4 separate regions of the Homo sapiens genome follow, and all the other regions are reported to be linked to region 1. The links are microRNA targets in miRTarBase. Many come from high-throughput screens and were not tested one by one. Region 1 holds a microRNA gene; each other region holds the end of a gene's coding sequence.

Region 1 (3,000 bases):
TCCAGTCATGAATATTTTAGAGGCATGATTACTAAATCATTTGAGGCCTGTGATGATGTTATCTTTCTCCAGAAGAGTTTTTGTCTGCCTCTGTTGGGTACCTAGTAGAGAGGGGATCACTTCAATCAATTCGTGTTCAAGGCTTGAGATGTGTGTGGTCCCCCAAGTGATTAAAAGTTTTGCTGCAGGCTAACTGGATGACTATTTTATTTCCAGTTCACCCTTACTGGTAGGGTGCAGCTCTAGAGGGTCCCAGTTGAGGTTGATGACTAGAGTCCCCACCCTTGGCAGGCCCTAGATTTTGACTCTTGCTGGAAAAATAACTTAGCCTTTTAGCTGCATCTTCCAGTTAGGGCTGTGTTCTTAGGACAGAATTATCTCCATTGTTTTGCTTGTATCTGGGTTCCCAGCTTGTTTCTGTTCTGGTGCTTAGTCATTACGTTGTTAACTCTCTGATTTTGGTTTTGGAAGATGTTTTTATTTATTTATTTTTTTATTGGGAGAATTTATTTGAATTACCTACCATTACTTGAAACAAAGCAGTTGTTAGGGAATTTCTTAGCAGGGTTGAGTAGATTGTCTTAGGTTATACAGGACAATTATTTACAGAAAAGCAAGCTGAGACATGGATGTAATAAATAGCCGTTAGAATCTATGTTTCCCTGATTTTTGGCCCATGACACTATCGTATTACTATTTGTAGTGGAAAGAGATTACATATTCTAGTTAACTGGTTTATGGTTTAGATGTCCCTCTGAAAGGCAAGATTGTCTCCAACACATAATGAATTATTCTATTAATATCCAAAATAAATATTCTACTAAATGTCCTGTATAAAATAAGAGAATCAGATTTCTGGTTCAAGATAATAAGGACCAAGCACAATTATTTCATGCTTTTTTTTCTCTTTAAAATCTATTGAAATGGCCAAGATGAACAAGGAGATGTGACCTTAGGAGAAAAAAAACATAGGATATTTAAACTGCATGTTTAAAACATGATGAGGCTGATACAAAAAGGGAACAAAGAATAAAATACAATTCTTAGAGATATGTTTGCCAAATCAAATTTAATGGAAAATTCCATATAACCAAATGAACACAGCCAGAGACCAAAGTGATGATCTCTAGGATAAATTAAAAGTCCCCTAGAATCTAGATCAAAAAGAAATGTATACAAAAGAAGTGAAAAGTTAAAAAGTCATGGCAGATAGGACTAGACGTTCCAGAAGGCCAAATAGTGGTGATAGTTATAAAATATAATTTTATAATGTTTCCCTGAACTTGATAAAAACCCGGATAATAAGACCAAAATTGCTTACCAAGAAGAAATAAATTAAAAAGTTACATTCTGGTGGTAGTTTTAAATATTAGATGTATTTGTTTTGAATAAATAATAAATTCACATGTAATGTTATACAACCTATCTTTACCTGGTTTTTGGTTTCAGGGTAATGCTGGCTACGTATGTTCAATTTTTGGAATAGTTTGTATGAAATTGCATTATTTCTTCCTTTAATATTTGATAAAATTCACCAGTGAAGCCATCCAGGACAGGACTTTTCTTTATGGGAATTTGTTTTAAAGCAATTTCAATTACTTTAATAAATATAGGGCTATTCAGGTTATCACTTTCTTCTTCAGCAAACTTGGTCATATGGGTCTTTCAAGGAATATATTTGTTTTATTTCAATTATCACATTTAAAAGCATTAAGTTGTTCATAACATTCTTATTATTTTAATATCTGTAGAATCTATAGTAATGCCACCTCTCTAATTCCTGATATCAAGAATTTGTATGTTTTCTCTTTTTCTTAATCATTCTGGTTAGAAGTATATCAATTGTGTTGATCCTCTCTTAGTTTTATTGATTTTCCCTATTGTTTCTCTGGTTTTTATTTCATTGATTTCCATTTTGAACTTTATTTCACCAGCTTACTTTGAGTTTTATTTGTTCTTTTTCTAGTTTCTTATGGTGGCAGCTTGAGGTCATTAATTTGAGACCTTTCTATTATTCTCATAAAGACAGTTAGCACTGTAAATTTCCCCTTAAGTACTGCTTCAGCAGCATCCCACAAATTCTGATATGTTGTATTTTCCTTTTAAAAGTTTTTTCTAATTTACCCTTTTGTTTCTTCTGTGATCTATGGCTTTATTAGGTTGGTACAAAAGCAATCGCGGTTTTTGCTATTACTTTTAAAGGCAAAAACTGAGACTACTTTTGCACCAACCTGATAGAAGAATGTTATTTTGTTCCCAAAAGCTTGACAATTTTCCATGATATATTATTGACTTCTAATTTACCTCCATTGTGGTCAAGAACATTCCTGATAGGACTTGAATTCTTTCATCATGGTAAAAGTATTCCATGTGCAGTTTAATGTGTATTCTACTTTTGTTGGGTGGAGTGATCCATAAATATGAATCATGGTACAGATGAGGCAATCAATGAGTTTATTCTACTTTCTGCCGTTTCTGGAGGAGTCTCTTTTTCTTCTTATTTTTGTTAACTGCATTGTCAGCATAGGTAACATACCTTGTTGTACTAATTCCCATTTTTGTTTTAGTCTTAATGTTTATCAGCAGTCCTGTTGCCATAGTTGCCTCAGTCATTTCTTGGTTGGCTGAAGTCAATCTGGTTGGTAGTCATTTGCTCAAAAATGGTTCATGGGAGCAGTATTCTCCTATAGTTCTTGCATGTGTGTAGCTTTTATAATTTAAGAACAATTTAGATAGATACAAAATAATTGGATCAAACTGCCTTTCCTTGAGGATCTCAGTAGAACTTGTTAACAGGTAGTTCTACCTTCTTCTGGAATTGAATGTACAAAAATAAGAGGCCAGTCCATTTTCTTTTTTCCCCATGATAAGTGACTTAGTCATTTTGCTTGGCCAGCCAAAGTATTATTTCTAGATTTCTGAAATTTTAAGAACTATATTTTATTTATCAGTGTTTATTTTTCAGGATCATATTTTCCTAGTATACTCTGGGCCAATTCA
Region 2 (3,247 bases), not on the chromosome of region 1:
AATACATTTGCATTGTTTGCTGGACTATTGTATTATAGCACATAATTCTGTTGGGACTATGATTTTTGGACTTCAACTTTCAGATGTGTCTTTAGTAACTTATTTTGTATGAAAATATGGGACATTAGAAAAAGTATATTTATGGGTTTTTTTCCTCTGAATTACTTTTTTTTTCTTCTATCATACTAACTGTAAAGAGAGTTATGTACTTATTGTAAAAGATTTTAAGGATAATGTTAGACAATTGTATGGTTTCTTTGTGTGTGTGTGTGTGTGTGTGTGTGTGTGTGTGTGTGTGTGTTTATCTTTTTTGCTTGCCTTATTTAGCAGTTTTAACGTTCAGGTATTCCTAAAGTTTTGAATCTTTATCTTTTCAGAATCTTTAGAACACGATGTTCTTGATGATAATACAGAGCAGACAGATGACAAAATACCAGCTACAGAACAGACAAACCAAGTGATTGAAAAAGCATCTGACTCAGAGGAACCAGAGGAGAAACAAGAGACTGAGAATGAGGAAGCCTCAGTGATTGAAACCAACTCCACAGTTCCTGGAGCTGATTCTATTCCTGATCCTGAACTAAGTGGAGAATCTTTGACGGCAGAGTAGTAAATGCTTCCACGTGCCTTCAACTGGATATTTATAGTCTTACTGATGTCAGTTATTGCTTTTTCGGTGGCACTTACTTTTTTTGCCCCTCTAAGGGTATGCTTGTGTATCATTTGAATTCAGATTGCCTAGCTATTTGAACATCTCAAAGTTATATATACTGGGTATTAAAATTAAAAGCAAGTTATATCAGTGAAGTAAGATCCTTTTGAATGTACAAAGACCCACACTATTGAGACAGCTTTTAGATACTTTTTTGTCCATTCTAAAAGTAAGCAAACATGATTGCCTTCTTGTTTTCTGTATGTATAACCCGTAAATATCCATTTTGACATAGGAAGAACTTTGGTTAAGAGTAAGTTCTCTAATTGTGTTTGTTTTAAGGAATGAAACTTGGTTAAGATTTTGACTACTTCATTATTAAAAATTGATAGAATTTTAGCTCCTGAGATATTTACAACTGGGAGAAATGTCTATTTAGGTGTTTACATTAAGCGGTATGAAAGTTGTTACCACATAGGCACTGGTACGAATTCTCAATAAGAATGCAGTGGAACAGTTAAGTAGAACTGTAACTACGTTGGCACTGGTACGAATTCTCAGTGAGAATGCAATGAAACAGTCAACTGCAGTGTTTCTTTTTGATGTCTTTTATTTTACAACTGGGCCAAAGGCACATTATGTATATAATTAGTTTATATTTACACACTAGCATATAGGAAATATTTCTGCACTTGACCCTATTTGAATTCTGAGCATTATTTATAAGTATAAAATGATGATATATAAGTGAATTTTGTGCTCTTGTTTGTATTTTATTAAGGAAAATGAAAATAATCTGGCATCAGTTTCATTTTGCTAAATATCTAGTCTTCTTCAAACAGTATCTTGGTGGGTGACTTGGCTACCTGAAAAATCTTAGGAGGAATAGCTCACAATACAATAAATCTGTAGATTCTGCTTAGAGCAAATTATGGTACTTTTATTCAGACTTGTTTCCTTTCTAGTTAACAGAAATAGTGACATTTAGAGGTTTTAATCAGAAGTTAGGTTTTTCTGATTCAGGAACATCGTAGGCCAGCCATTTGTAATTTTTAACTTTGAGAAACAAATTTTGTGAGAATAGGTAGTGGGTTGCTGGTAGTTAATTGGATTTAATATTTGTATTAAGGATTAACTGGAAAAAATGTGTCTCAGTGCTAATTCTTGGACCTTTAATACAGTGTGCTTATCTGTTACGGCCTCCTTTTATCTCTCTTCTCCAATATTAAAAAAAATGGAAATCAAATTATTATGCTGAAGGGAAAAATATACCTGTATAAGAATGGTGTGTTTGGCTAATGTTTCTAAGTTGCACACAGTTTATTAACAACTGAACAAAACATTTTTATCATTTAAAAATCTATTTTTATGATTTAATATCTCATATGTGACAGTTTTTTTTTTTTTTTTTTTTTGGAACTCAATCTGTTAACAGTCTGGGACATCCGGTATAGTAACCAGAGTTTTTGAGCCTGCCGTATTGGGCTTAAATTTCAGGTCTGTAGTCTTGGGCAAGTCACCTATAAACTCACTGAGATTATTTTTTCATCTGTAAAATGGGAAGAGTTATGTTTATTTTTGAAGGGTATTAGGATAATTAAAAATAATGTAATGTGCCTAGCACACTACCTGAAAACGATGGCATTTGTTCTTATTAATGTCTTTAAAATATGCAAGGACCATAAGTTTTTCCTCTTGCAGATGAGGAAAGTAAAAAATAATACGAACATGTAATTCAGCTTCTCAGATTCAAGCCAATGTTTTTTGCATCAACTTTTCTATATTGTATGTATGTATATAAATACATAGATTAAGGAAATAGGAAACTGAAACTCTGTGGAATATAAACTTTTTAAAAATAATTTCATCAGGTTTTTTGTATGTTACTGACCCATATGGATTTTAGTAACATCTTGCTTAGTCATGTTGTTATAAAACATTCAAATTCTGATATACATTGCTTGAAAATGAGTGAGTACCTCAGAGAAATTTGATAGACTCAAACAGATAGTATGAGAAATATCTTTGAAAGAAATATGGAGGAAGGTTAAAAGGGGATTAGTAAAATTAATGCGATAGGTAACATGTTTGTAACCATATAGTATCCTTTTAGATACAAAAGCTTATTTTCATTATTATTATAATAAACAGTTAATGGTTGAAACTTAGTAAAATGTCCTATTTCTGATTATTAAGACTAGTATAAATGAGAAAATCCAAGCTATTAAGTACCATTAGCTACAGTGATCTTAGCTTCCTTGCTTACAATTGTTCAGTGGGTCATCTAAATTCTTCTATGTCCTGAGCATGATCTACAAACATGGTCTAGCTTCTGTCTCTCCGTCTTCCCGCCATCATTGTGCTGTAGCCATATGGAACTCCTTTCAGTTCTCTGACCATGCCCTTTCCTGCCTCAGATTTCAGCTTAAATTTTGCCTCCTCAGAGAGATGCCTTCCCAAACTCCCCATCTGAAGCTGGCCTCTGCCTTTTACTCCCTATCATGTCACTCTCTGCTCACCATCCTTATCACAATGTGTATTTGATTTGTTTGCTAGTTTACTGTCTTCACAACATAATGTCCGTTTGTGCAAGGG
Region 3 (3,247 bases), not on the chromosome of region 1:
GTAGTTTTAACTCTCTCTTCCTTACCTACACCATTGTCATTACAATGTCTAGTAGGAATTGAAGTATACCAGGGACATTTTCCAAACACTCTTTTAAGTCACCTGGATAGTGGTGAAGCCACCAGCAAGCCATTGATGTAGTGTGTGTGCCTGGCGCCATCTGAAAAAGGCTGGCTGACCCTGGTTCCCTCACACCTAGGTACAAATACTCAATTCTTAGACACAAAAGCCTTAGCAAGTGTGGCCACCAACACACACACACCTTCACCAGGGCTATGTCAGAAGATGACCTAGTGCTGGTTCCTATGGCTCACAGAGCCAGGGTTTGGAGAGAGGCTGCTGCTTCTATGCTGGCCACTTGGAGCCTAGAATCCAAGCCTGAAGTATGTGTGTGTGTGGGGGGGGGGGGTCACAGGACCAGGGGTGAGGCTTCCTGCCTTTGATTGTGCGAGCTGCCTTGGGGCCCCTGCCAACAATACAACAGCCAGTGTTCCTTGAAAAACTCCACCTCCCAGAACCTGAAGGAAATATAGCTATGGTCTTTTGACCATTTCTATGATGAAAGTTGTATCTTCTGAGATACTTGTTTTATGTTGGAAAGTCAGTAAAGTGACCACTAAGAGTCAAACTCTTAGCTAGAAATGTTAATAGAAAGTCCGATCAAAGTGTATATTCAATGAGGAACAAGTGATATTAAAGCAAAGTTAAACTTCATGTAACTATTTTTATTTCAGTGGATTCCAAAGCATGAGTTGGGCTGCTTTTGAATAGTGGGAGACGGGAGTTTACCCCGATCACAGAAACCATACCAACTGAAAGACAAATCAGCATCTTGCTGGACGACCCCTCACAGAGCTCCTAGATCCTTGAAGTGTGAACTTCAGCAGCTGAGAGGTAACAATTGTACACAAATCACACTATCATGCTCCAACGAATGATGTGGCCCTTATGAAACAAGATGTTAGAATGAATTCTTTATAGTCTCAGCGCAAAAAAGATTCAAGTACTGTTTAAGGTTTTTGTTTGGTACTACTTTCTTCTCTTCAAACAGCATTTCCTGAGGTTAACTTTCTTGGAAGAAGTGGAATTAATGGAGTTCTCACATTCAGCCCTTCAATTTATCATCGCTGAATTCTTGAGTTATGCTCAAATGAGTAATACAATTTGTGTTTAGAAAACACAAAGTGGAAAATTTAGAGACATTTAGATTATGTTTCTATGTTCATTTCAAATGCCTTGGGAGCATTTACTTCTTAAACATTTAGTGAGGAATAAACCAAATATAATCAGGGCCCTCCTTTATTTCCCCAGCAATCTGGGATAGATCATACTCACAATGTATTTCCCAAGTATCCCTTGTTACTAAAAGGCAGTCTGTTCCCCGTAAGTACTCTCTGAGAACAGCCATCCCAGGTATCCTTGAAAAGCAAATGAGAGCTGAGCATGGCAAACACACGAGGTCCAGCTGTGTACAAATCATCAGTAGATGGCACACACATGCATGTATGTGCCTAACATGAAACCAGATATCCTTTCTCAGATGACAGATGTCAAGGCTGCAGTTTTCTTCTCTTGCCTCTTACTTTGCTGAATATAAACTAAGATGAGATTTCTATTTAATACTTACAATCACCTTGCTTTTCTTTTAAGATACTTCTAGAAGGGGGTAGGGATTGATTATAGGAGGACTTTCAGTTAGGGAAGTAGAAGACTAAGTGCTTTGAAAAGCTTTATGAATAAGACTACGAGAAAAGCTGTAGGTCTGCAAACACCCAATAGAAAACTGTTTAAAAAAGAAACAGGCCAGGCGCAGTGGCTCATGCCTGTAGTCCCAGCACTTTGAGAGGCTGAGGCGGGCAGATCACTTGAGGCCAGGAGATCAAGACCAGCCTGGCCAACATGGCAAAACCCCGTCTCTACTAAAAATACAATAATTAGCTGGGCATGGTGGCGCATGTCCATAATCCCAGCTACTTGGGAGGCTGAGGTACAAGAATTGCTTGAACCCGGGAGATGGAGGTTGCAGTGAGCCGAGATGGCACCACTGCACTCCAGCCTGGGCGATAGAGTGAGACCCCGCCCCCCCCCCCCCCCCAAAAAAAAAAAGAGAAACAGATGGCACAAACTCTGGAATAAAAAAAAAGTGCTTGTAAGACTGCAACATGACTGCGGTTGAAAAATAAACACATAGGTCTTCTTTGAAAGTATTGCCCTACAGACACATTCATGTTAAACTGCTTCAGTATCATCGAACCATCACTCTGCTATTTCTCTGCACACCCACCTGCACAGTTATAAAGAGGAGGAAAGCACAGTGATACTCCTTGATGTCTGAAACCAAGTTTTTAAGGATGTGGAAAGAACAAACTAAAAACGTAAAACAAAACACCCAATCCTCAGAACTACCACCTCTAACTTTCATGTTTCTGGGAGGAAGTGAATTAATAAATGTTTTGTGGGTAGAAAGCAAAAAAATCATCACATAATTCAGCAAAATAATGAAGGCCCAACTGTATGACCCCTTCACTTTATAAGCACGTTTTAAGGCCAACTTTAGAGAAAATGGTAATATAAATTAATTTTAGCAAGTATAAATTACAGTGACCATCTAGATATTCAAACACCAAAACAGAACAAAATTTACATAAGTAAAAACTCTTCTAAAGTAAACCAATGTACAATATCAGAACTCAAAATTCATTAGAAGGTTCACTGTATGTTTTAATCAGGCTCAGACTGAAATAAAAGTAGTCAATTGAAACCCCAACCTGGAAAGCCATCCCTGCTATGGCTGTGATTTCATCATTTCGGCATCCCGAAACATTCACTTAGAGCAACATCCATGTAAACAGTTCGACATATGGTCCCCTGCTGTGGATCTGTGGCTAGTAACAGCCTGGGAGCAGCAGACAGACAGGGGACACTTAAACCTCAGAAAGCAATAGCAGCCTCTGACGCCTTGCTCAAGGCTTCTCATCTGGTGGCTCAGTGAGACTTTGGGAGGTGGAAGTGGTGAAAGTGGAAAGCCATGAAGACATAGCTGTCTTTGCACTGGAAAAAGCTCCTCCAACTGACTGGCCTGGATGGAGAGGAGAAAAACAAAAGGAAAAATGTCTTAACTTTTGTTACGAGACAGTGAAAGACCAACATAATTAATACATTTTTAATTAAAAATTTAAAAAAATGTTTTTTGAGACAGCGTCTTACTCTGTCGCCCAGGCTGGAGTGCAGTGCAGTGGTCACGGCT
Region 4 (3,247 bases), not on the chromosome of region 1:
CTGTGAGTGCAAGTAACTCCAGCCACGCCGGCTGGCAGCAGGGAAGCTGCCCCTGTGACAGGCCAGGCATGCCCGCTCCTCCTGCCTGAAAACCGGGTGCCTGTGGTGAGGAGGGGTAAGGTGGCAGGTTCAATTCAGCTCGTGCTGCACTTAAAACTTTCTACCATAAGAAAAACACATACTGTTGACCCTTAAACAACACAGGGTTTGAACCTGTGGGTCCACTTATATACATGGAGCTTTTCCAACCAAACATGGTTTATTTGCTGAATGTGAAACCCACGTATACGGAGGGCTGACTTTTAGTGTACGCAGGTTCCGTAGGGCCAAGTGCCAGACTTGAGTATGCAGATTTTCGCATACGTGGGGTATCCTGGAACCAATGTCCTGTGTATATTGAAGGATGATTCAAATACTTCCCAAGAGGTTGTGTCAAAATTCAGTAAAATTTGAAGAACTGCAAAATATTTCTCCATTACAAATTCTAACATCCTACACAGAGACCACCACCCCAACTGTTTTTTAAAAAGCAAACATAAATACAACACTTGGTTTTGAACCTTTAATAAAAGTAAAAAATGAATGCAAAAAGAACACAATGTTGAAAACTTAGTATGAATGTGAACCTCACTAGATGTTCAAATCTGGTAGAGTGCAAATTTTGTTCATACTATTTTACATTTTTACAAACTCAAATCACTTTGGTTCATATATTTTCTATAAACTATTGGCAAAAAAATCCTCAAATTTACATTCTTTTGGCTACATTATTTCTAACAGATATAGATTTACTTCCGGTTTCGGAGAGAAAGACTTATTGTGTGTGCGTGATCAAGTCTGTTTTAAAGATTCACTCGCTGCTTTCATCTAATAACTTCTGGTTTTTCATAAAATGCTGACATCTTCATTGGAAATTTTTTTCATGTAACTGTTTTCATTTTCAGAAAATATATAAGGGGGTCATTCCAAAGTTCAGAATGATCCTATTTTTTTAAAAAACAAAATTCCTGTAAAACAAATTAACTCCAGGAACTTAAAATTTACTCCAAGACATTTCCCTCAAAACAAAGCAAAAAACCCCAGCAAAGATCGTTACATCACAAAACCAAACACAAAGACCAGCGCTCACAGGCAAGTTCCTCTAAGCTTCCATTCTGCTGACTGGTGGCTTCCATTTAAAAGGAGTCTTTTAATCAAGCCACTTTCACAGAATTTAAAACAAACCAAACACATGTAAATTGCAAAATACAAAAAGGTAAATTTATAAGTAAAAATGACCAAACCCACAAAACTGGAGTATTTCGAAGGTTGAGGGTTCAGTGGAGGGTGTAACACGAAAGGAACTTCACAACTGAAAGAAATCATTGCCGAGTTTCCTCCAGGCAGCACTGAAATGAATGGAGAACCTTCTCTCGAACATCTCACACGTTAAAAAAAATAAATATTTAAGAGATACAAGGCTCAGATTGGTTTTCATATACATTGCACTTGAAGTTTAAGACCCAATACTTGCAAATTAGGTCTGGTATGGTCTATGCCATTAAATGAATACATTGTGCTCACCAATATCATTGACTAGAAACACCACACGTTTAATGCAGTGCCATATGCACTCTCCTTTTTACAAGGCAATCACAGATTGCAAATTCCATAGGGCTGTGGCAAAAAACAGTCATCTCTATTCTGTAGTAACAAACAAACAATTTTGGCTCACTAAGATTGAAATACATGGCAGACAGGTATTCATTCTTAGATGACTATGGATTTCGAAATAAACTTCATAAACTGAGGTGAAAATTCCAATATATCGCAGTGTGGGAACCAAGACTTTTCATTGCCTTTTGCTCAGTAAGATTGTCTACACAAACTGCCACGGGAGGAATGACAAGCAGTTGACCCACTGGTGATACACACACGTGTGACCATGTAAACACGCCACTGCAGGACGGACGAGCGTGACCGTGAAGCGTGGCCACGCCGCGACCCCACTTAGAGTGTGACCTCTCTATAATCACTGCTGCTTTTCTTGTTTTGTTTTTTTTTTTAAACACAGCCCTATTTTTAAAAATCTTTTGGATAAATATTATTCCTATTACACCATACTTCATGTTTGTTAAGCACCATCAACCTACCTCCTTTGGGCACTGACACAAAACTGCGGGTTGGTAATTGAGTCTTAGTTCAAGGCTTTGAAATATGGCAACTTGTTTTAATCACATGAATGAAATCGAATACTTGGGAAGCTGCCACCTGCCTGAACCCACGTAGCCTGGGCAGAATGCTCCAGGGCACAGACAGGCGCCAGTGCGGGCAGTCAAGGGAAGACTTCAGGGTAAGTCATCATTCTCCACCTCCCTATTCTAGACTAGGTGAAGAGTTTTTTCCAGGAGTCATTTGTACAGTCAGCCCGATCTAAATAGATTACTTAAGAAAAAAGATAATCTTTGTCATAATCCACAGTCAGATTTTCTTCCAAAATCTTCCTTGCTCTCAGAATCGGTGGTTTTGAAGACTCAATCACTATGGGGCTTTTCAGGAACACCCTATGTGTAGAAAGGAAAAAAAAAAGGAAAGAGAAAATTAGCACTAAATGTATAAATATTTTAATTACCAATTAAGTAGGTCCTAACATGGGAAAGATTGACACTTTCTTTGACTGAAGCAACAAGATTGAGAGGTGGGACATGTGCAGAGAACTGGAGACCGAGGCCAGCTCTCCCAGCTCCCCTGCACCGTCTTCATGGCTCTGGCCCCGTGAGCCACAGCTCTCACCTGCAAAATTAGGATAATTCTCTGCCTCAGGTGAAATTACGCTGCTGAGGCCCTTATATAAAGCCTGTTATATAAGTGTAAGATATTGGTGAAAGTTTAACTAAATTAATATCTATATAAAGGAAACACCCAATTTTATCAAAGCATGGTGATGCTTAGGGTATGATAGGTTCCTGAAAGTTCTAACTGCAATTTAAGGGATTGAACCTTTATCTGAAGGGAGGTTTCTGCCACAAACCTTTATTAGTATCTGATGCCTGTGTTATAACCCACCTTACCAGCAGTTTGTTGAAACAGACATTGGAAATAGGTCATGCTTTGTAATACTGAAGCTCTGTGTGCCCTCAATTCACACAGAGCTTCACAGTTGGGAAATCCTTTCTACATGTTCTTCCTCATCTGACCCTCACAGAGCTTCTGAGAGGTAGACACTACAGTTACTACTATGACCAGGCACCTCAGGGTAAATTCTTAA

What was found. The annotated mature microRNA hsa-miR-548e-3p reads AAAAACUGAGACUACUUUUGCA and lies in region 1 at 2,205-2,226, shown strand. An mRNA with a match to its seed (bases 2 to 7 or 8) in the 3' UTR can be bound and repressed. Matches are read on the target gene's strand: a 7mer-m8 pairs with bases 2 to 8, a 7mer-A1 pairs with bases 2 to 7 and ends in A, and an 8mer does both.
Region 2: miRTarBase lists LNPK as a target of hsa-miR-548e-3p. Seed matches in the 3' UTR shown: 7mer-m8 at 2,044-2,050.
Region 3: the mRNA of AVL9 is a reported target of hsa-miR-548e-3p. Seed matches in the 3' UTR shown: 7mer-m8 at 1,780-1,786.
Region 4: miRTarBase lists INSIG1 as a target of hsa-miR-548e-3p. Seed matches in the 3' UTR shown: 7mer-m8 at 2,152-2,158 and 7mer-m8 at 1,288-1,294.

Annotation. Positions count from the first base shown.
Region 1 is chr10:110,986,774-110,989,773 of GRCh38, forward strand. It overlaps MIR548E (microRNA 548e), which reads left to right and starts at 2,153; the gene lies at 2,153-2,240. All of the region lies in intron 3 of SHOC2 (SHOC2 leucine rich repeat scaffold protein), which reads left to right.
Region 2 is chr2:175,927,330-175,930,576 of GRCh38, reverse strand. LNPK (lunapark, ER junction formation factor) reads left to right here. Exons shown (of 13, transcript NM_030650.3): 13 at 378-3,247. The coding sequence ends at 610. Among named protein-coding and RNA genes, the nearest start is that of LNPK, 73 kb to the left of the region's middle.
Region 3 is chr7:32,583,624-32,586,870 of GRCh38, reverse strand. It overlaps AVL9 (AVL9 cell migration associated), which reads right to left. Exons shown (of 16, transcript NM_015060.3): 16 at 1-3,079. The coding sequence ends at 2,964. It also overlaps the pseudogene DPY19L1P1. Among named protein-coding and RNA genes, the nearest start is that of AVL9, 90 kb to the right of the region's middle.
Region 4 is chr7:155,307,537-155,310,783 of GRCh38, reverse strand. INSIG1 (insulin induced gene 1) reads right to left here. Exons shown (of 6, transcript NM_005542.6): 6 at 549-2,543. The coding sequence ends at 2,514. LOC105375592 (a long non-coding RNA gene) reads left to right here. Exons shown (of 3, transcript XR_007060612.1): 3 at 1-591. Among named protein-coding and RNA genes, the nearest start is that of INSIG1-DT, 10 kb to the right of the region's middle.